Linked DNA regions of Homo sapiens: region 2 is linked to region 1. The links come from fine-mapping of genetic effects on gene expression. A gene starts in region 1. The other region holds a variant in brackets. All regions are shown on one strand. Distances are between the middles of the regions.

Region 1 (11,167 bases):
AGTATGCAGTGGGTGCACATAGCAGAGACAGGTAATGAGAAGTTTTCTTTTTTCCTTTTCTTTTTTTGTGGGGGGTGGGGACAGAGTCTCACTCTGTCACCCAGGCAGGAGTGTAGTGGTGCAATCTCGGCTCACTGCAATCTCCCCCCACCCCACCTCCAGGTTCAAGCGATTCTTGTGCCTCAGCCTCCTGAGCAGCTGGCACTACAGGTGCACGCCACCACGCTGGGCTAAGTTTTGTATTTTTAGTAGAGATGGGGTTTCACCATGTTCTACGTTTCACCATGTTGGCCAGGCTGGTCTTGGACTCCTGGCCTGAAGTGATCTGCCTGCCTCAGTGTCCCAAAAGTGTTGGGATTACAGGCGTGAGCCACCGCACTCGGCCGAGAAGTTTTTCTGATTAAAAAAAATTTTAAGGCACACACTTCAGACAGTGGCTGTGAAGGAACCCTGATGTGTATCTAAACTGTCGCCTCGTGCACATCACCCCATTACTTACTCTGTGCTAAGTGCTGTCATGCATTACATCATTACTCCTTAGAACAGGCCTATGAGGTGGAGTCTGCATTAGGCCCATTTTGGACAAGGACACCAATAGTGTGGGAGGTGGTGTACCTTGCCCAAGCCCCCAGCAGGTAAGTGGTGGTGGGGATTAGGACCCAGGTCACTTGAGTCCATATCCTGGGCTCTTAGTCCCACTCTGCCTGGCTGCCTGCTGCTCCGTGAAGCCAACCCTGGACCTAGACCTGGACCTGGATCGTCATAGCCCAGATCCCTGTGTGCTTCCCAGGCTGCCTTGTGGCAGGTGGATGGTGCCCCTCGAGATGGGCAGGGCACCATCTGGCCACACGTGCCTCATCGTGATGGGTCCAAAGGTCTGGGCAGGCCAGGACACACCTCTGTCAACCAGAGCAGTGACTCAGAGCTGTCGGCCTCAGCCGTAAGGGCAGGGAGAGGGGGCAGGGGCTTGGGTTGGGGTCTGCCCTATTTGGGGCACAGCAGAGCGACCAGGCTGACTCCCATGGTCTGAGGCAGAGCGGGGAGCCTGGAGCCTTGGGTGGGGTCACCTGCCTCTCTTCTTACTGGTTAAGCCACCAGCGATGACTAGTGCCTACTTCCTTCAGAGAGGAATCTGACGGCTGTGGCAGGAAAGTCAGGGGCAAGAATTGTTGCACAGATATGCTAATATCTCAGTTCTGCCACTTTCTGTAATCTCGGGTGGTGATCTAATCTGTCTAAGGTCTATTTTCCCATCTGTAATGGGGAAAAAAATCATCCCTGGAGTTATTGGCAGGATTAAATGAGGTGATATTAGTAATGCAATAGTCACCACCATGCCCCCACGAAAACTAACATTCATTGAGACCTTATTGTGTTGGGCATTGTGCTCAGGACTTCAAATGGGTGACTTCATTACATCCTCACCATCACCTGCCCAGGTAGGCATCATGTATTACCTGCAACTTACAGATAAGGAAACCGTCTTAGAGAGGTTATGCAACTTGCCCTGCCAAAATTGAACCCATTGTGAATATACAGTAGATAAAAAAAATAATAAAAATAAAATGAAATTAAAAATTGTGGCTGGGCAGGGCGGCTCACACCTGTAATCCTAGTACTTTGGGAGGCCGACACGGGTGGGTCACCTGAGGTCAGGAGTTTGAAACCAGCCTGGCCAACATGGTGCTCAAAAAAAAAAAAAAAAAAAAAAAAAAATTGAACCCAGCAGTCTGACCCCAGAGGAGCCTGGTCTCTGGTCTCTTAACCCCTGCATTGTAATAGTCGCATCGAGCGCTACCCAGTGTCTGCAGCATCCTTTCCTCAGAAACACTTCTCAAAAAGAGGAAAAGCCTCTTGGGTATCAAAACTCAGAACTGCATCATAGCTCCCAGAGCCTGGCTATACGCAAAGTGGTCTTTTTGGTCTTTTTTTTTTTTTTTGAGATGGAGTCTTGCTCTGTCACCCAGGCTAGAGTGCAGTGGGACAATCTTGGCTCACTGCAACCTCTGCCTCCCGGGTTCAAGTGAATCTCCTGCCTCAGCCTCCTGAGTAGCTGAGATTACAGGCACCTGCCACCGTGCACAGCTATTTTTTGTATTTTTAGCAGAGACAGGGTTTTACCATTTTGGCCAGGCTGGTCTCGAATTCTTGACCTGGTGATCCACCCGCCTCAGCCTCCCAAAGTGCTGGGATTACAGGCGCGAGCCACCAGCCTATGCAAATGTTTTAAAATGGATGGATGCTGGACTCAATGGATCTCAATTCCCTTTTTTCTTTGCCTGGGGGGAAGCTCAGAACCTGATTCATGACCCATCTCTACAATTACCCAGAACTTGAAGGCAAATATATATATATATATAATTTGTTTATTTTTTGAGAGAGAAGCTCTTGTTGTCTAGGCTGGAGTGCAGTAGCTATTCATAGGCACAGTCTCACTACTGATCAGCACCTGAAGTTTGACCTGCTCTGTTTCTGACCTGGGCTGGTTCAGCCTTTCTGAGGCAACCTAGTGGTCCTCTGCTCCTTGGGGTTCACCATATTAGTGCTGAATTTAGTGTGGACACCCCATCAGCATAGTGCCCTACAGCACAGAAATCCTGGCCTCAAGCCATCCTACTGCTGCAGCCTCCCAAGTAGCTGGGACTACAGGTGCACAGCAGTGCCCCCAGCTCAAGACAAGTATTTTATGGCCTCAATTCAGGCGTAGATTACCCTTATTTTTCTCACTTGACTTCCCTTCATCTGGGTTTCTTCTTTTTATGCTGGTGGCGTATAAATTTTGTTACTATGTTTTACATTTGGAGAGTTGGGAAGCAAACTATTAAAATGCCTGACTATAGCAACTGCCTGATATACAGTCAACACAACCCTTAACAACGGGGACACCTTCTGGGAAATGTGTCATCAGGCAATTTCGTCATTGTGTGAACATCACACAGTGACTTACACAAACCTAGGCGGTACCACCTACTACACACCCAGTCTCTATACCACCGCCTGTGCTCCTGGGCTGCTAACCTATGCAGCCTGGGACTGTACCGCACGCTGCAGGCAACTGTAACACAGGGGTAAGTATTTGTGCATGTAAACACAGAAAGGGTGCCATGAAAGATGATATTATACTCTTATGGGACCGCTATTATATGTGTGGTTCGTTGTTGACCAAAACACAGATATATGGTGCATGACTATATATCTATTGTGAATTAGACATGTCCTCTGCCCACAAGAAGAGGGCCACCCAATGGTGACGACTCAGTGGTGTGCCTTAAGAAAGTTGTGCCCAGGGTCCCCTTTCTGTGTCAACTGTGATGGCTGGGCCAAAGTGAGGATAAGAAGGACTTGTGGCTGAGCCCCTTCGGGAGGCCACCACATCGGGCAGCGCTTAAAGCCAGCCTGGGGGCCGAGCTCCGTGGCTCATCCCTGTAATCCCAGCATTTTGGAAGGCCGAGGCAGGCGGATCGCCTGAGGTTAGGAGTTCGAGACCAGCCTGGCCAACATGGTGAAACCCTGTTTCTACTAAAAATACAAAAAAAATTAGCCGGGTGTGGAGGCCCACGCCTGTAATCCCAGTTACTCGAGAGGCTGAGGTAGGAGAATTGCTTGAACCCAGGAAGCAGAGATTGCAGTGAGCCAAGATTGTGCCACTTCACTCCAGCCTGGGTGACAGAGCAAGACTCTGACTCAAAAATAAATAAATAATTAAAAAAAAAAGGCAACTTGGGAGTGGATGAAGCCCCTGGGGACGGGCAGATGCCTTTTGAGGGTCTCAATGCGGGGTGAGATCAGTGTCAACAGGCTCGAAAGTGGGTTGTCCAGGCTCAGCTAGCCCCCAGTCCTCCACGAGAACCTCACAGGGGCTGGTCTGGCCACACAGTGTTTGATTGTTACACTGTTTTACCACTTCCCTCTCCTGACTCAATCCCCCACTTGTCCACAGATCCCCTGTCACTGAAGACTCGTAGCAGGGAGGGGACGGGGGCTCTGGCATCACCTTCTGACTGTCACCGTCCCCGCCTCCAGCCTGCCCCAGTGTTGGGCCTTGTTCCCAGGTCCTCTGGGCTCAGGGTCGGCCAGGCCCCTTCTCCTGTGGTGTGGGCCTCCAGCCCCAGGAGCGCCAGGAGCTCTGGCGCCTTGGTCCCTTCCTCCTGTCCGGCGCCCCCAGCTGTACTCTGCCTCATTAGGAGTCGACCCCTCCTGGGAGGTGTGGTCTCTGGCAGGGTTAATGATTGCTCAGTGGAGGTGGAGATGGTGCCAAAGTCTGCTGGCCACATAGCTGCAGGCCGCAGAGGGTGCCCACCTGTGTGCCAGCGCCTGTCCGGCGCCTGCCTGCCGCCTCCGTGGCGAAGGGGACACAGGTAGGGACTATCCAGCTCATCGGGGGTCTCTGGGCCAGAGAAATGTGGGGGTTGGGGGGATCCCTAGAGCCAAGGCAAGCTTGGGGGTCTTTAAAAGTCTCCCCTGAAGCTGGGCAGGGGAAGTCACACGCTAGATGGGGCAGAGCCGGGTCAGGTCCCAGCCTGCTGTGAGGCCTGTTTCTTTGGTAAACATGGGATAATAATACCTCCTTCCCTGGGGGCTGATGGCCCCCTTCCCATCCAAGTCCTCAAGGGATGATTCTTCAGAGGATGGAAGGGAGGCAGGCACCCCAGGGAAACGAGGTAACTGGCCTGACCCCTTCATAGGATGCTCAGGGGTTGAGGACGGGGAAGCTGACCTGGGCTCTTACCCCAGCTGCTCGGTTCACATCCCAGCTCCACCCTGACCTTGGTGGGCTACTTAACTCTTCTGGGCCTCCGTTTCCTCATTTATCAAATGGGGATGAGAAGAGTTCCAGAAAGGGCCTGAAAAGCCCTGAGGCAAAGGTGAGCATGTGGCCTATGACCGAGCCCAGTGCCACCTCAGCCAGTGCTAGGAAGTGTCAGGCAGGGACTGACCCAGGCTGGCCCCAGCTCTGCCCAGTCCGGGCCTTGCACATCTCTCTGCCCTGGTAGAGGAGGTGGTGACCCAGCTGAGAGTCGGGGCCATGCTGCGTCACTCAGGCAGGCCTGTGCTGGGTTGGGCACCAGGCACAAGGCAGGGTCCCAGTGAGCACCGAGGTCCGGCAGATGGAAACAAGTCATGGCCCGTGTGTAGACCCCTTGATTTTTATCCTCACTCTGCTTCTCAGCAGGGGAAACTGAGGCCTGGAGAGGGGAGAGGGCTTGCCTGGGGTTGCACAACAAATATGTGAAATGCTGCCATCTGAACCCAGGGCTGTTTGAGTCTGTATGTGTCTGCTGGGCCAGGTGGCCTGGGCCATAGGCACTGGGAGGGCCCGTGGCGGGGAGCTGCGTGCTCAGGTCCCACATCCTTGCTCCGGGCACCCAGGCTCGGCTGGAGTCCGCTCTGTGGGTGCAGGCACGGCCTCCTGGATCAACGGAGCCCAGACCAAGGCTTGCCCAGGGACCCCTGGATTTGGAGGCAGCCTGGGTCTAACCTGCTGCCCCTGGCTCACCCATCTCTGGGCATCTATGAGCCTCGGTTTCCTTGGAATAATAGGATAGGATAATTCCTGCTTGGGAACAGCTGTGAGAAGTAAATGAAAAAGCAGAAGTGAAAGTGCATGGCGAGCTGGCCGTGTAGCGGTGGCGGTGCTGGGGGAGCTCTGTAGCATCGTGGCTGAGTGCACCCCGGGGGCTCCCCACACTGAAGGAGGACCCACCTCCCCACCCTGACCCTCCTGGAGGTCCTGGGCAGTCCGGGTATCCTCACTCCCAGTGGTTCCAAATTCTAGAAAATCTTGGCACCGTGGACTGCTCTGAGATGCGGCTGAAGCCTCCTCTCAGCCAAGGCTGAAGAGCTGGCACCTCCTGGGCCAGGTGGGACCAGTGAGGATTCCTGGAGACTACACATCTCATGGCGTGGGGGCCAGAGTCTCCCTGATTCTTCTCTGTGTCCTTTTTGGTCCTTCCCTAAGCACTTTCTTTTTGAGACGGATTCTCACTCTGTTGCCCAGGCTGGAGTGCAAGGCGCTATCTCGGCTCACTGCAACCTGTGCCTCCCTGGTTCAAACGATTCTCCTGCCTCAGCCTCCTGACTAGCTAGGATTACAGGTGCACGCCACCACGTCTGGCTAATTTTTTTTTGTGAGATGGAGTCTTGCTTGTCGCCCAGGCTCCAGTGCAGTGGTGCGATCTCAGTTCACCACAACCTCTGCCTCCTTGGTTCAAGTGATTCTCCTGCCTCAGCCTCCCGAATAGCTGGGATTACAGGTGTGCGCCACCATGCCTGGCTAATTTTTGTATTTTTAGTAGAGACAGGGTTTCACCATGTTGGTCAGGCTGGTCCAGGCATTTTTTGAGAGCAGGGAAACAACAGTAGTGGCCGGAGGGCTTGAGAACAAGGAAGCAGTAATTTCTGGAATATAGATAGTCCCCATTTTAAATTACTTTATTTTATTTTTATTTTTTGAGACAAGGTCTTGCTCTGTCGCCCAGGCTGGCGTGCAGTGGCGCGATCTCGGCTCACTGCAGCCTCAACCTTCTGGGCTCAAGTGATCCTCCCACTCTAGCCTCCCAAAGTGCTGGACTGTGTTTGCTCCTTTAAAAAATGAGAACTATTGGTATTGGCCTGGACTGCCACCACACCTAGCCAAGAGTTCTCTTTTTTTTTTTTTTTTTTGAGACAGAGTCTCGCTCTGTCACCCAAGCTGGAGTGCAGTAGCGGCATCTCGGCTCACTGCAAGCTCCGCTTCCCGGGTTCACGCCATTCTCCTGCCTCAGCCTTCCAAGTAGCTGGGACTACAGGCGCCCGCCACCACGCCTGGCTAATATTTTTTTTTTTTTTGGGGAACTTTTAGTAGAGACGGCGTTTCACCATGTTAGCCAGGATGGTCTCGATCTCCTGACCCCGACCCCGTAATCGGCCCGCCAAAGTGCTGGGATTACAGGCGTGAGTCACCGCGCCCGGTTAATAGTTCCCATTTTTAAAAGGAGCAAACAGAGAAAAGAGCCCAGGGGTACGGTTGTGCAGTGACTGGGACCTTGTTTCACACCCATGCGTTGGCCTGAGGCTGCCCCAGCAGGGAAAAGCGGGTGCCTGTCCGCAAGTCCCAGCCCAGGGGCAACTCCATTCACTCGGTTTCCATTTGTGCCTTGCTCCTGCCCCTTGCTGGGGTACCAGGAAATGAGGAGCCCAGAGTGGGGGCCACCAACTGCCTGAACACAGCTCCACAGCTGATCTGGGCCTTACAGAATGGAGAGGATTTGCATGTAGGCAGAAGGCAAAGAAAGACATTCTGGGCAGAGGGAATGGTTTAGGCAAATGGAGGAAGGACAATGCAGGGTGTGGACCGAGAACAGGAGCATTCAACACCACTGGACCTCAGGAGTGGGAGAGAGCAGCTCGTGTGGAAAAAGCAAGACCCAGGACCTCCAAGGACCTCGCCTGTCAGGCTGAGGGGCAGGCAGTGTGTCCTGCAGCCAGTGGGAGCCATGGAGGAGATTTGAGCTTGGGAGTGACCTATCATGGGGAAGGCTTAGCATTGGGGCAGGCCGTTATTGCGCCTTCGCCAGCCCACACAGACACTGTGCTTTTTCCCCAAGTGACTGAATCCAGAGGCAGATGCTCTGGACTGTAGAACGCCAGCCTCATCATGATCATGAGGAGGCAGGACTGCGAGAAACCCGGGGCCAACCCCAGCAGAGCAGGAGGCAGGCGAGGCAGGGATGAGGCAAGAAAGAGCACTGGCCTGGGAGGCAGACAGGGTGGCACCCCCACTCTGCCGCTGACAGCCTTGGAGCTGCTGGGCAGGAACCCTGGCCTCCTGCACTCATGTCTGTGTGCATAAAGGGGATTGATGAATCCAGCTCTTCCTTCCAGGGGGATGGCTGGGCCCACATGCAGGGGAGAGACTGTGCGTGCATCACACAAATGCAAAGGGGCATCGCTGTTGCTCTGAGTGAGGGTCCCCAGGCTTCTTGAGGCCCTCCATCCTGCCCTGTGAGATGGGGAGGGGGGAGTTGGGAGACACTTCCATGAGGGAGAAGCGTGGCGTGTATGGGGAAGGGGCTGTAGGGGGAGGCGCCTCGGGGACTGGGTGAAGGTCCTGGTTCGGGCTGTTCTCTCTCAACATCACATGTTTGTGGGCTCAGCATGACCTGTGGGAAAATCGGGCAGCTCAAGAAGGAAAACCCAGGAGCCTAGAAAAGAGAGAAGGCACAGGCCTGGCTTGGGTTCTGCCCATTACTGGCTGGGCCGCGCCCTTTCCCCTCTTGGACGTCAGTTTGCTGAGGACTAAATGGTAATGGGGGCAAAGTGCTAGCCTCGGTACACGGCCCTTCCTTGCCAGTTCCCATTTTCCTCTGGGACTGGGAGGAGGGACCCTGAGGGCAGGAATCTCCTGTCCTGCAGGCTGGACCCAGGGGAACTTTGTAATGATGATGAATCCATCTTGATACCTGCTGGCTGCACACCTAGTGACTAATTGTCCCGTGGCAGTTGACTCATTTCTGAAGGACAGAACATGAGAGAAAAAAGTGAGGAGGGAGGTAGGTTCCAGGTTACAGCCTCAGAGGGATGCCTGGGCTGGACGCATCCAGCCCCTGGCTGTTCCTTACACAATGGACACCTGCAGTCTAGCAGTACCGCTAATGCCCAGCTCACCTGCGTCTCCACCGCCAGCCCCGCCACCACCACCATCTCCCTCCCCCAACTGTCACCTCCACCAGCGCCACCTGCGTCTCCACCTTCATCAGCACACACATCATCAGCATGTCCGTCCCTACTTACCACCACCAGTGCCACCCCTACCCCCGAGGGATCCCTATCCTGATATTGGACCCTGCCTCCATGACCACCTCACTCACTGCCCTTGACTCCAGCGCTATGATGTCACTCTCCAGGGTGTAGCTGTACCCACATCGCTGTCCCTGTCTCACTGAGGACTGTGGCTCAGCACTGCTGGGGGTTCTGAGGACTGAGAACTTACTAATTCCCCTGAGCGGTGGGGCACATCTGTATTTATCAGTCTGGCTGAGTGCAGCCCTGCCGTTCAGCATGTGGGCTGTCCCCAGCTGTCATCTCCGGGGTTCTTGGCAAGCCAGCATTTTCCACAGCAACTTCCCAAGGTTCCCCTGGCTAGAGTCACATGGAAGGTAGCATGAGAAACAGCCCCAGGGCTCCTCCACACACAGCCCTGGCCCTGCCCATTTAGCTCTGACCTCTGCAAGCAGTCTCAGACCCTGGGGAGCGTGGATGGTCACCAGGGAGGGAGGAAGCTGTTTCCATGGTGATTGCAGTGGGAGGAGCAGCCATAAGGTGAGGACAACCCCACGGAAGGAAGAAGGTTTGCACTTGCTGAGCGCCTATTGTGTGCCAGGCGCTGAGGTGGCACATTCTTATTCCCACTCATCCCCCGCTGCCTACCCTCATCACTTAGTGGGGTTATTATTCTCACAGGGGAGGGAACGCTTAGAGAAGGGCAGTGAACTGCCCAGCGAAGCTCTGCTGCTCCTTGACTCTGTAAACTCAAGCCAGGCTCTTCACCTCTCTGAGCTTTGTTTTCCCCATCTGTAAAGTGGGTAGAATGGTACCAATCTAGAAGGGTTTTTTGTTTTTGTTTTTGTTTTGTTTTGTTTTGGAGACAGTGTCTCGCTCTGTCTCCCAGGCTGGAGTGCAGTGGCACGATCTCGGCTCACTGCAACCTCCACCTCCCGGGTTCACACCATTCTCTGGCCTCAGCCTCCTGAGGATTACAGGCACGTGCCACCACACCCAGCTAATTATTGTATTTTTAGTAGAGACGGGGTTTCACCATGTTGGCCAAGCTGGTCTTGAACTCCTGACCTCAAGTGATCTGCCCGCCTTGGCCTCCCAAAGTGCTGGGATTACAGGTGTGAGCCACCACACCCAGCCTCGAAGGGATTTTGTGAGCATTACGTAGTGCCCGGCTCAAGTTCTGAGAGGCAGGAGGTGCTTCCTCCACGAGTCTCTTGCTATTCATTGCTGTAATGTTTAACGGTTGCCAAACATCCCACCCAGGGCTTGTCCACATCTTTCTACATCATTGCCTGTGTTTCATGTTACGGTCACTTCCAGCTTCCCATGATTATAAATAATCACTCACGGTCAACAACTTTCTGCAAAAAGAGCTTCTTATTCTATGTTAGTTGGATGAGTAGGTCAACAGGGCAAACATTTTGAAGCTTTGGGGTCCACATCTGAACTGGGGTTTTCTCCTCTTGCTAGGGCCCTGGGGCCACGGGAGGCCTGCCTCCTTCTCCCTGCCTCAGGGAGAGGCGAGGGCCTTGGGATCGGAGAGTGGCTGTGAATCCCACTCACTTTCAGCTGTGAGGGCCTCAGCGGAACACTCCCAGCAAGAGCCTGTTTGCTCATCTGCAAAATGAGTTGCTGTGAAGATGAAATTCTATGAATCCCAAATATTCTGCCTCCAAACTATAGCCCTGCTCTTGCCTCCCCTCCAGCCCTGCTGCCCCCAGTTCAGCCCGGCGACACACAGCAGCCAGAAAGGTCTTAAGAGGAAATTACTGCCTGCCACTCCCCTGCTTAAAACTCTGAAATGGGCCAAGTGCAGTGGATGGCTCACGCCTGTAATCCCAGCACTTTGGGAGGCCGAGGTGGGTGGATCACCTGAGGTCAGGAGTTCGAGACCAGCCTGGCCAACATGGCAAAACCCCATCTCTACTAAAAATAAAAAAATTAGCTAGGTGTGGTGGCTCACGCCTGTAATCCTTCGGGAGGCTGAGGCAGCAGACTCGGTTGAACCCGGGAGGCAGAGGTTGCAGTGAGCCGAGATCGCCCCACTGCCCTCCAGCCTGGGAGACAGAGTAAGACTCCATCTCAAAACAAACAAAAAAAACCCCCTCTGAAATGACCTACTGTTTTTTGTTTTTCTTAGAATAAAATGAAACATCCTTCCTGTGTCTCATAGGGTGGAGCATGCTCTGGCCCTGCCAGATTTCTCAACCTGCCTCCCTCCCATGATTCCCCACCTCTCTCCCTGCAACCCAGCCACAGGGACCTTCTTTGAACTCCTGGAATACACCTGGTTCTTCCCTGGCCCAGGCCATCTCTCATATTGTTTGTGCTACTTGGGACTCCCGCATAACAGTGCTCACCTTATCACAGCAATATGGGCATTTAATTTTTAAAAATATCAAATAGG
Region 2 (9,448 bases), 55 kb after region 1:
TATGGCAAATTAGAGAGCACATGCTCTGTCTAAAGGGATGGCCGGGTGCGGCGGCTCACGCCTGTAATCCCAGCACTTTGGGAGGCTGAGGCTGACGGATCACTAGAGGTCAGGAGTTCAAGACCCCCCTGGCCAACATGGTGTAACCCCCTCTCTACTAAATATACAAAAAAATTAGCCAGGTGTGGTGGTGCACGCCTGTAATCCCAGCTACTCAGGAGGCCGAGGCAGGAGAATTGCTTGAACCTGAGAGGCAGAGGTTGCAGTGAGCCAAGATCGTGCCACTGCACTCCAGCCTGGGCAACAGAGCAAGACTCCATCTCAAAAATAAACAAAAACAAAAATTAATAAAAATAATAAAGGGAGAACCACTACTCCCATCAGCCAAGTGCTATCCTGGAGAAATGCAACCTGGTGGTCCCAGTTCTTCCAGTTGCTTAAGTGGGAAATCCAGACTTTAATGTAAAATATGCTAATTAATTAAAGGTTTAAAAAAAAAAAACCCAAACATTATGTGGGCCAAACAAGACTTGCCTGTAGGCCACCAGTTTATGTCTATGTAGGCCCTGGAGAGCTGTGAATGGTTTATAGTCAAGGAAGGGACATAGTCAGATGTGTGTGTTTTCAAAGATTCCTCTGGGATGGTATGGAGGCTGGGCTGAAGGAGCACAGGGGTTGGCCAAGACCTGTGAGGAAGCTGGTAAATCATTCATTTAATCTTTCATCCATTTAATCCTTCATTCATTCACCTAGCCCCTTCTCTGCAACAGGCCCTGAGCAGTTGCAGGAATCTCGATGAGAGACAGCACAGCAGAGGTCCTGGAGATGGTAGTTAAAGGCAGAATTGAGAAATCCAAAGGAAAACTGACAGGTACCAACAGGCTGTACTGGTAATGGCAGGGGCGGTCTGCAGGGTACTGGCTAGGGTGAGGGCTGCTGGGTGATGGTGCTGAGCAGGAGATGTAGGAAAGAGGGAGATCCGTTTTTGGACAAGCTGAGTTTGTAGTGCCTGGGGGATATCCAAGAAGAGGGTCCAGCAGGCAGCTGGGCCTACAAGCAACCCCGTTCCGTTACACACTCAGTAGCCAAAGCAAATAGAGCTCCTGATCCCCTCAAACCTGCTCCAAAACCATGGCTTTAATGCTCAGGCCCAAATCCCTAATCACCCTTGACTTTCACACCCCACGTCTATCAGCAAAACATAATGGAGTTACCATCAGAATATATCCAGCATCTGGCTACTGCCATCTGGACCCCCCACCATCTCTCACCTGGATTATCCCTGCCTTTTCCTTTGTCCCATAGCTTATTCTCAACACAGCAGCCAGAGGGATCTTAGTAAAACCCGAGACAAATCATGTACCCCTCTGCTCGGAACCAGGCAGTGTCTCCCCATCCCATGCAAAGTAAAAGTAAACTCCTTAGAATGGCTCAGAAGCCCCTGCATCTTCAGGCCCCGTCACCTCCTCTGCCCTTTCTGCTGCTGCTCTCCCTCTCCCTCACGCTGCTTCAGCCACGCGGGGTGCCTCGCTGTGCGCCTTGCTGTGCCTTGAACACGCCTGCCTCCATGCCTTGGCGCTGCCTGCTTCTTCTGCATGGAGAGATTTCTCTCCAAATATCTGCATGGTCGGCTCCCCAAGGCTTTCCCTGACCCATGCAATGTAAAACAGCCTCCTCCCCAGCTCTGGCTGGCATTCTCCACCCTCTTATTCTAATCAGTTTTCCTCCATAGTACCTGTCACCATCTGACATATCACATATATTCGCTTATTGCTTGTGGTGTGTTGCTCTCATTAAAATGCCAGCTCCAGGAGGTGGGGACTTTGCTGTGCTATCTGATATATCCCAGAGTTGAGACCTGGCACACATGCAGTAAGCAAGGAAGATCCTCATACGGATTTGTTCCATGAATGACTGAATGACCTAAGATGCAGAGCCACCTGTGCCCTCCTTGGCTCAAAACCCTCCTCATTCTTGCCGGAAATGTAAATTAGTTGTAATCTTTTTAGAAGGACATTTATCAATTTCTATCAAAGTTTACAACGCGCATAGCATTTGAGCCACCAAGCCCACCTCTAAGCATGGTCCTAAAGATAGACCTGGGGTCCTGAAGATGGTCCTGGGGTACACAAGGGCATGGCTAGTGATGAGAACAAGACGGGGAGGCAGGTTCTGTGAACTGTGGGACAACCACGCAGAGCACCGGGCAGCTACTAGAAGGTGTGGGGTAATGAGGGAAAGCACCCAAGATAAATTAATTGAAAAAGGCCAGGGGACAGCATCGCTACTGGGATCCCACGCGTGTAGCCAAGGAAAAGGACACACATGGATGGGTTTATTTATAAAGAGAATTTCTGGATGGAATCCTATAAAACTTTTAGCAGTGACTGCCTCTCAGAAGGAAGAGCGGGGATCTGAGGGTGGGAGAAGCTTTTCTTTGTGCGCCCCTTTGTGATGTTTAAATTGTGGTTATGTGCGCACATAGTCCTTTTTTTTTCCAATGGACAATAAAGAGAAACCTTTAATGACTCACTCTTACCTTTGGGGTAAAGTCCAGCTCTTTAATATGCTCCTAAGCCCCTATGTTTCTACTTAAGTGCTGGGATTTATCTTTCATTACCCACTCCCACCCCCAAAACATGTACACACACAGATACACACTCTCTCTCTCCCCCACCATCTCAGCCTCTACACACCCTCTTCTGGAGGAATCTCTCCCTCCCTTCTTGCCTGGCTGTCTCTTATTACACCTTCAGATCTCCGTTAAAACACCTCCTCCTCTAGTGGGCCTTGTTTGGCTACCAGCTTCCTGGGGATTCCTGTAGCCTCTCGTTCCTCCTCTAACAAGGCTCATGTCACTCTGCATCTGGCCATTTACACCTCTGGGTCCCTGGCCAGACCTCAGGTCTCTGGATGGGGACACAGTCGATACTGTTCACTACTGGGTCCCTCAGGCTCTGGCTTATGAGGTGGGGGAGGGGGACCATCACTAAGAGGGAACACAGGAAGAGGAACAGTTTTGCAGAGGATCATGGGGCACTGGGTTTCGGAAGTGGAACTGGAGTGCCCATGGGACTTATGGGGGGTGACATCCAGGAGGCAGTAGGAAGCAGGCCAGAAGCACGGGAGAGGTCTGGTTGGAATTCGTGG[G/C]ATCACTGGATGGTCACCAGCCTGCAGGGGTCAGGCAGGCATCAGATTTGAGTGGCGTGAATTGAGTCCATCTTCATCTTTGGCCTTTTGATAGTGATATGGGCACAAATATTTGTTTTCTCCTACAAGGGAGATGATGAAAGACTCCTGACATCCCCAGACTGAGGGAGACAAGAGGGAGTGGTGGGGACTGTGGCAAACTAGAGGGCACTGGCCCCTTCTAAAGGGGCAACGGCACTCAATTCCTGCCAGCTGTGGCCAATTAGGAATCATTCCATTAACTCAGCATTTACTGAGCACACAGGCAATGTTCTAGGCATTATTCTTGGGACTGGGGATACAGCAGTGAATAAGAAATGTGGGGTCCCTGCCTTATAGATGCAGAAAGATTGGGAGGAGAGAAATAAACAAGTGGCAAATAAATCATAGTATTTCAAATAATGGATGCTGTGAAGACAAAGGAGTGGGCAGCTGGTTTAGACATGTGGTCAAGAAAGGCCCCTCTGAGGCAGTTACCATCTGAGCCAGCCATGAAGAGCTGGAGTGGAGTCGGAAAGGGGGTGGCAGCGGAAGAGGAGGCAGCAAATCACATGAGGCATGGTGGAGGAGGGGGGTTTAGCCTAAGGGCACTGGAAACCCTGGAAGTATTTTCTTTTTATTTGAGACAATGTCTCACTCTGTTGCCCAGGCTGGAGTGCAGTGGCGCGATCTCGGCTCACTGCAGCCTTGACCTCCTGGGCTCAAGTGATCCTCCCACCCCAGCCTCTCAATGTAATAGGATTATACCTTGATCTCTTGAGGCCAAGAGTTCCAGACCAGCATGGGCAACATAGCAGGATCTCGTGTCTACAATAGGATTATACCTAGCGCCTAGTGAGCCACTGTATCCCGCCCCTTGGAAGTATTTAAGCAGGGAAGTGAATGTGGCCGCTGTGCCTCCAGGTTTCCTAAATTTTTTTTTAGCTAAGTCATAAATCTGGATATCTGTATTTTATTTATTTATTTATTGAGACAGAGTTTTGCTCTTGTTGTCCAGGCTGGAGTGCAATGGTGCTATCTTGGCTCATTGCAACCTCTGCCTCCCAGGTTCAAGTGATTCTCCTGCCTCAGCCTCCCAAGTAGCTGGGATTACAGGCATGCGCCACCATGCCCAGCTAATTTTGTATTTTTAGTAGGGACAGGGTTTCTCCATGTTGGTCAGGCTGGTCTCGAACTCCTGACCTCAGGTGATTTGCCTACCTTGGCCTCCCAAAGTGCTGGGATTACAGACATGAGCTACCGCGCCCAGCATGGATATCCATGTTTTAAATATTGGCTAATTTAAAAAATATCATACAGGCTAAACAAAACACTTTTTTTTTTTTTTTTTGAGACAGAGTCTTACTCTGTCACCCAGGCTGGAGTGCAGTGGTACAATCTCAGCTCACTGCAACCTCTGCCTCCCGGGTTCAAGCAATTCTCGTACCTCAGCCACCCGAGTAGCTGGGGCTACAGGCGCACATCACCATGCCCAGCTAATTTTTTAAATTTTTACTAGAGACAGAGTTTCACCGTGTTGGCCAGGGTGGTCTCGAACTTCTGGCCTCAAGTGACTGGCTGCCTTGGCCTCCCAAAGTGCTGCGATTACAGGCATGGTCCACCATGCCCGGCCAAAACACTTTCATGAGCCAACTTTGACCCCTAGGTCACCAGCTTGCAACCTCTGATCCATCTGGCCCTTGGCCTATGGAAAAGGACGTTATAAGCCAGGGTGACCGGGAAGATGGTCAAGGGAAAGGGCCCTGGGGCGGAGTTCCGCGGCTGTAATCCCAGTGCTTTGGGAAGTCAAGGTGGGATGACTGCTTGAGGCCAGGAGTTCCAGATCAGCATGGGCAACACGGCAAGATCCCGTCTCTACAAAAACTTTAAATTAAAATTAAAAAAAAAAAAGAAATTAGCCAGGTGTGGTGGCATGTACTTATAGTCCTGCCTGCTCCAGAGGCTGAGGCAGGAGGATCTCTTGAGTCCAGGAGTTTGAGGCTGCAGTGAGCTATGATCAGCCTGGGTAACAGAACAAGAAACTGTCTTTAAAACAGAGACAGGGAGAGAGAGAAAGGGCCCAGGCTCCAGTGAGGGCCAGGATCTGCCTACCATGCCTGCCTGTTTCCTTCTCTGGAAAACAGGAATTCAACAGCTGCCTGGCTGGTGTACAGGGAGTTTAGCTGGAGCTGGAAGGAGTCAGCAAAGGATATAGGAAGGGTGCTCTGGGCCCTCACTACCCCTCATTTCAGCCCTGGAAGCCCAGCCCTGGGGTCCTCACACACCAGCCCAGCCAATAAGCTCCTCTCCCTGGGTGCAGCCCGGGCAGAAAGTCAGGCCAGCCCACCGCTTATCAGCTCTGTGACTTCAAGCAACGCCCTTCTCCTCCTTGGGGACCCTGAAGAACCCACCTCCTGCTCCCCCAGGGCTATAGTGAGAATTAAAGAAAATGAGGGGTGTGCCTGACTCTGCTCACTTTAGGGCTGGGCTGTGTCTGTGGAAGGCCTGTTTTTATCTGCTCAGCCTGTCAGAGCCCAGCTGTGCTCCCAGGAGGGGGCAGGGGAGGAAAGGGTCTGCAGCAGGGACACAAACCAGCAAAACCTGACCCTCAGACAGGCTTGTTTGACCCACAGAGCTAAACACATTTTAAAATCAGTTTTAAAAAGGAATTAACCGATCAACTTCTAAACATTAGAAGATTTCATGTGACAGTAAGATTTCCAGCTTCTCTTGGAAAACTAAAATTTGGCAGTCTGAGCGTGCTTCCTGCCTGGCAACATTCAGCTGGAGCCCCAAAGGGACAGCCTCCTTAGATGGGGGTGTACTCTCCAATCAGCCACAATCCCCCCTCTTCCCCACGGTGTCCTAGACACTGAGGCTGACTGTCTGCTGCCATCAATCATGGAATTCTCACTGTCGTTTTTCTCACAGCCGGCCCTTCATGTATGTTACCCTCCTGGCCTGTAGCCACCTGAGTGTGGACCCTGGAGCACAATGCCATGAAAGGCAGAGGTGACCTTGTACAAGTCGAGCCCTTACTATGTGCAAATCCCACCCGCCTGCCAGGCAGCTGTTGTAGTCCTGTTTTCCAGAGGAAGAAACAGGTTCTAAGAGGCAAGCTTGGCTCAGCTGATAACATGCCCCTTCTGAAAGTCCCCAGGCTTCCCGTCCCCAACTTGTATTTTCCAGCCTCTGAGATGGGATAAAGTCCAGGGTAGGGACAGAGAGCCTGGTCAGGGAGGTAGAAAGATGTGGGGTCAAGCCCCAGCTTAGTCATTGACATCCTCTATGACTCTGAGTGAGTTTTTCTACTCCGTGGGTCTCAGTTTTCCAATCTGTGAAATGGGAGAGGGGATGTAGTTACATCTGGAAGAGATAGGCCAGCCCTGGGTTTCAGAACTGCCCCAAGACCACTCCCAGAGGCTCTACTGCTCACAGTTCTGCTGGGCCCTTCCTGGATCTTGGGGAGGCCTGAGGATCCTCGAGCTGCTTCTCTGAGAGGCAGCCCAGGCCTGAGGCCCCACATTCTCTCCCCGCAACTACCCCACTAGAACCCAGCTCCATTACCTGGGCCCAGCACGCTCACTGTCTTTCTTTTTTTGAGACCGAGTCTTGTTTTGTTGCCTAGGCCGGAGTGCAGTGGCATGATCTCGGCTCACTGCAATCTCCACCTTCCAGGTTCAAGTGATTCTCCTGCCTCAGCCTCCCGAGTAGCTGGGATTACAGGCATGTGCCACGACACCTGGCTAATTTTTGTATTTTTTGTAGAGACAGGGTTTCACCATGTTGTTTAGGCTGGTCTTGAACTCCTGGCCTCAAGTGATCCACCCACCTCGGCCTCTCAAAGTGTTGGGATTACAGGCATGAGCCACTGCACCCGGTCTCAGTCTCTTTTTATCATCTGGATCCCACAACAATCTCATGAGGGGGGCATTATCATCCCATTTCACAGATGAGGCCACTGAAGTCAGAGGGAGAAGACTTGACCAAGGGCACACAACTGGGGCACACAACTGGGGCACACAACTTGGTCAAGACTTGACCAAGGGCACACAACTGAGGGAAGGCTGTAGCTCAAAGCCAGTTGTGCCCAAGCACAAAACCTGAGTTCTTTCTAAGATCGTGGACACTGACACTTGGCTCTTTTTTTTTTTTTTTTTTTTTTTTTTTTTTTTTTTTTCTGAAGACAGGGTCTCACTCTGTTACCCAGGCTAGAGTGCAGTGACACAATCATACCTCCCTGTAGCCTCCAACTCCTCAGCTCAAGCAATCTTCCCTCATCAGACTCCTAAGTAGCTATAGGCATGCGCCATCACACCCAGCTAATCTTTAAATTTTTGTAGAGATGGGGGTCTTGGTATGTTGCCCAAGCTTGTCTCAAATTCCTGGCCTCAAGCAATCCTCCTGCCTGGGCTTCTCAAAGTATTGGGATTACAGGTATGAGCCACTGCACCTGGCCTGACACTTGGTTCTCAAAACCCCCTTTCTGGTTTTTGAGGTCAGGCCAAGGTTCCTCCCAAGCAACAGTGCCAAGGAGCATGCAGTAGAAGAAGCAAGAGCTCCCCTCCCCCTGCATACATTCCCCCACCTGTGGGAACGCACACACCCTATGAGCAGATGAGCCTGTACACTTGGGCACAAACAGGTTGAGTGTGGCCTGACTGAGGCAGAAGGCAGAAATGTCTGCTAGGTATGTAGGCGGGCTCACCTGGCATGCAAAGGAGTGAACAGACTGCTTGTGGATGTATGTACCAGCTTGGGCCACTCTGGGGCCAGGACCTGGCTCCTGTGTTCTGCTCAAGAAGAGCTTGTTGTGCGTATGTACACCCTGCATGTGCAGAATGGCCTGTGTGTTTGTGCCTCGTGGGGGCTACTTGGACCCTGTGGGTATCTCACTCCTAGGAGAGCTTATCTGGGTGTTGCACAGGTGCCTGTGTCCTGCTCCCAGGGAGAGCAGCAGCCCCTGTGGCTGCCCATTCAGGCCACAGAGACCTGGCCAGCCATTCCTTTCCCTCTAGGATTTCTTTCCAGCATGGAGCTATCCTTACACCCATAAACAGGGCCAGAACTGCCAAGCACCTGCAAATACCTCTTCTGTGCTGACAAGACCAACAAAGGCTTGAGGGACTTCGTCAGGCATCTGAGTGTGTCTGAGAATCTCAGTCTGCTGCCCCTCGTCCCCTTCTCTCGTAGTGCCCTCAGAGCAGCGAAGTCTCCTGCTCGGGGGTGTGGGGGGAGAAGGAATCTAAAGGTGTTAGCCAGACCTGCTTCCAGAAACGGCCCTCAGACCATGCATACATACATACATAGGAGGGCAAGAATGGACGTTCATGGACGTGCAAACGTGGGCCAGTGTGGGTGGGAGTGGGCAGCACGCTAAGAGACAGAGTGTGTGTGTAAGAGGGAGTGTGTGCACAAGGGTGGCAGTCTACTCCAGGGTATCTGGGTACGCAAGGGACCCCATGAGCAGGGGTGAGCAGGCCAGGGCAGGGTGGCCCCGAGTGTGTTGTGATCAGGGAGTATTGTTGAGTTGATGTCCATGCTGTGATCCGCGATGGCTGGTTTGAGTGCGTAGCTGTGCCTGGGTGTGTACGCAAGGCTCCCACCCAGTACCCTGGGTGACAGGTGGCCGTGTGTATGAGTCTAATGGAATGACCAACAGCCATTGTGTGTGTGCGGTAGACCTGTGGCCTCACTCGAGGAAATGAGGCGCCCGTGCGTGAACGCGGTGTTGTGTGATCGCGCCCCGGAGTGTGTGCCACACTGGTTGTGTGACGGCGAGTGTGCTCAGTAGTGCGAGTGGAGCCAGTGGAGCGTTGAGCTCGCTCCGGGGAAGATGAATCAACGCGGGAGGACGCCCTCCCCCCAGTGGCGGGAAGCACCCCCTCCCGCGCGGCCATGCCGAACAAAGCCAGCGGGCGGCGGCAAGGCCGGGCGCGGGGCCGACCCCACAGCCAGGTCAGCCTGGCCCGCCGGGCCCCTCTGATGTTCGGCCCAGGGCTGCGGGACCCGCCCCCGCCCCGCCCCGCCCCGCCCCGCCCCGGCGAGGAGCCTGGAAACAGACACCCACCGCCCCCAGCCGCGCGCACACACCCGGGCTCATGCCGCGCGAGGTGTCCGAGCCCCGCCGCCGGGGGGCTTCGAGGACCCTGGACAGCGGCTCCGGGGCGGCAGCGAGCGGATGAAGGGGCTGCCGCCGCCCGCCCGGAAAGACAGCGGGTGTGGGCGCGGCGCTTACCAGGCAGTGCCGCTGCTCCGGCTCCTGGGCGAGATGCGCTCC

Direction of the effects. Positions count from the first base shown, and alleles are read on the strand shown. Sizes are in standard deviations (SD) of each study's normalised expression.
With allele G in place of C in region 2, the expression in anterior cingulate cortex of the gene that starts at base 4,286 in region 1 is higher (moderate effect, 0.42 SD a copy in GTEx).

Evidence for each region.
Region 2: its variant is fine-mapped to the expression of CDHR2 in anterior cingulate cortex (GTEx, PIP 0.95).

Annotation. Positions count from the first base shown.
Region 1 is chr5:176,545,057-176,556,223 of GRCh38, forward strand. CDHR2 (cadherin related family member 2) reads left to right here and starts at 4,286. Exons shown (of 32, transcript NM_017675.6): 1 at 4,286-4,358. It also overlaps the pseudogene RN7SL684P. RefSeq lists enhancers at 4,558-5,491, 7,140-7,773.
Region 2 is chr5:176,600,593-176,610,040 of GRCh38, forward strand. GPRIN1 (G protein regulated inducer of neurite outgrowth 1) reads right to left here. Exons shown (of 2, transcript NM_052899.3): 1 at 9,407-9,448. Among named protein-coding and RNA genes, the nearest start is that of GPRIN1, 4.8 kb to the right of the region's middle. RefSeq lists silencers at 9,145-9,204, 9,265-9,448. The variant G/C (reference allele first, on the strand shown) is at 3,151.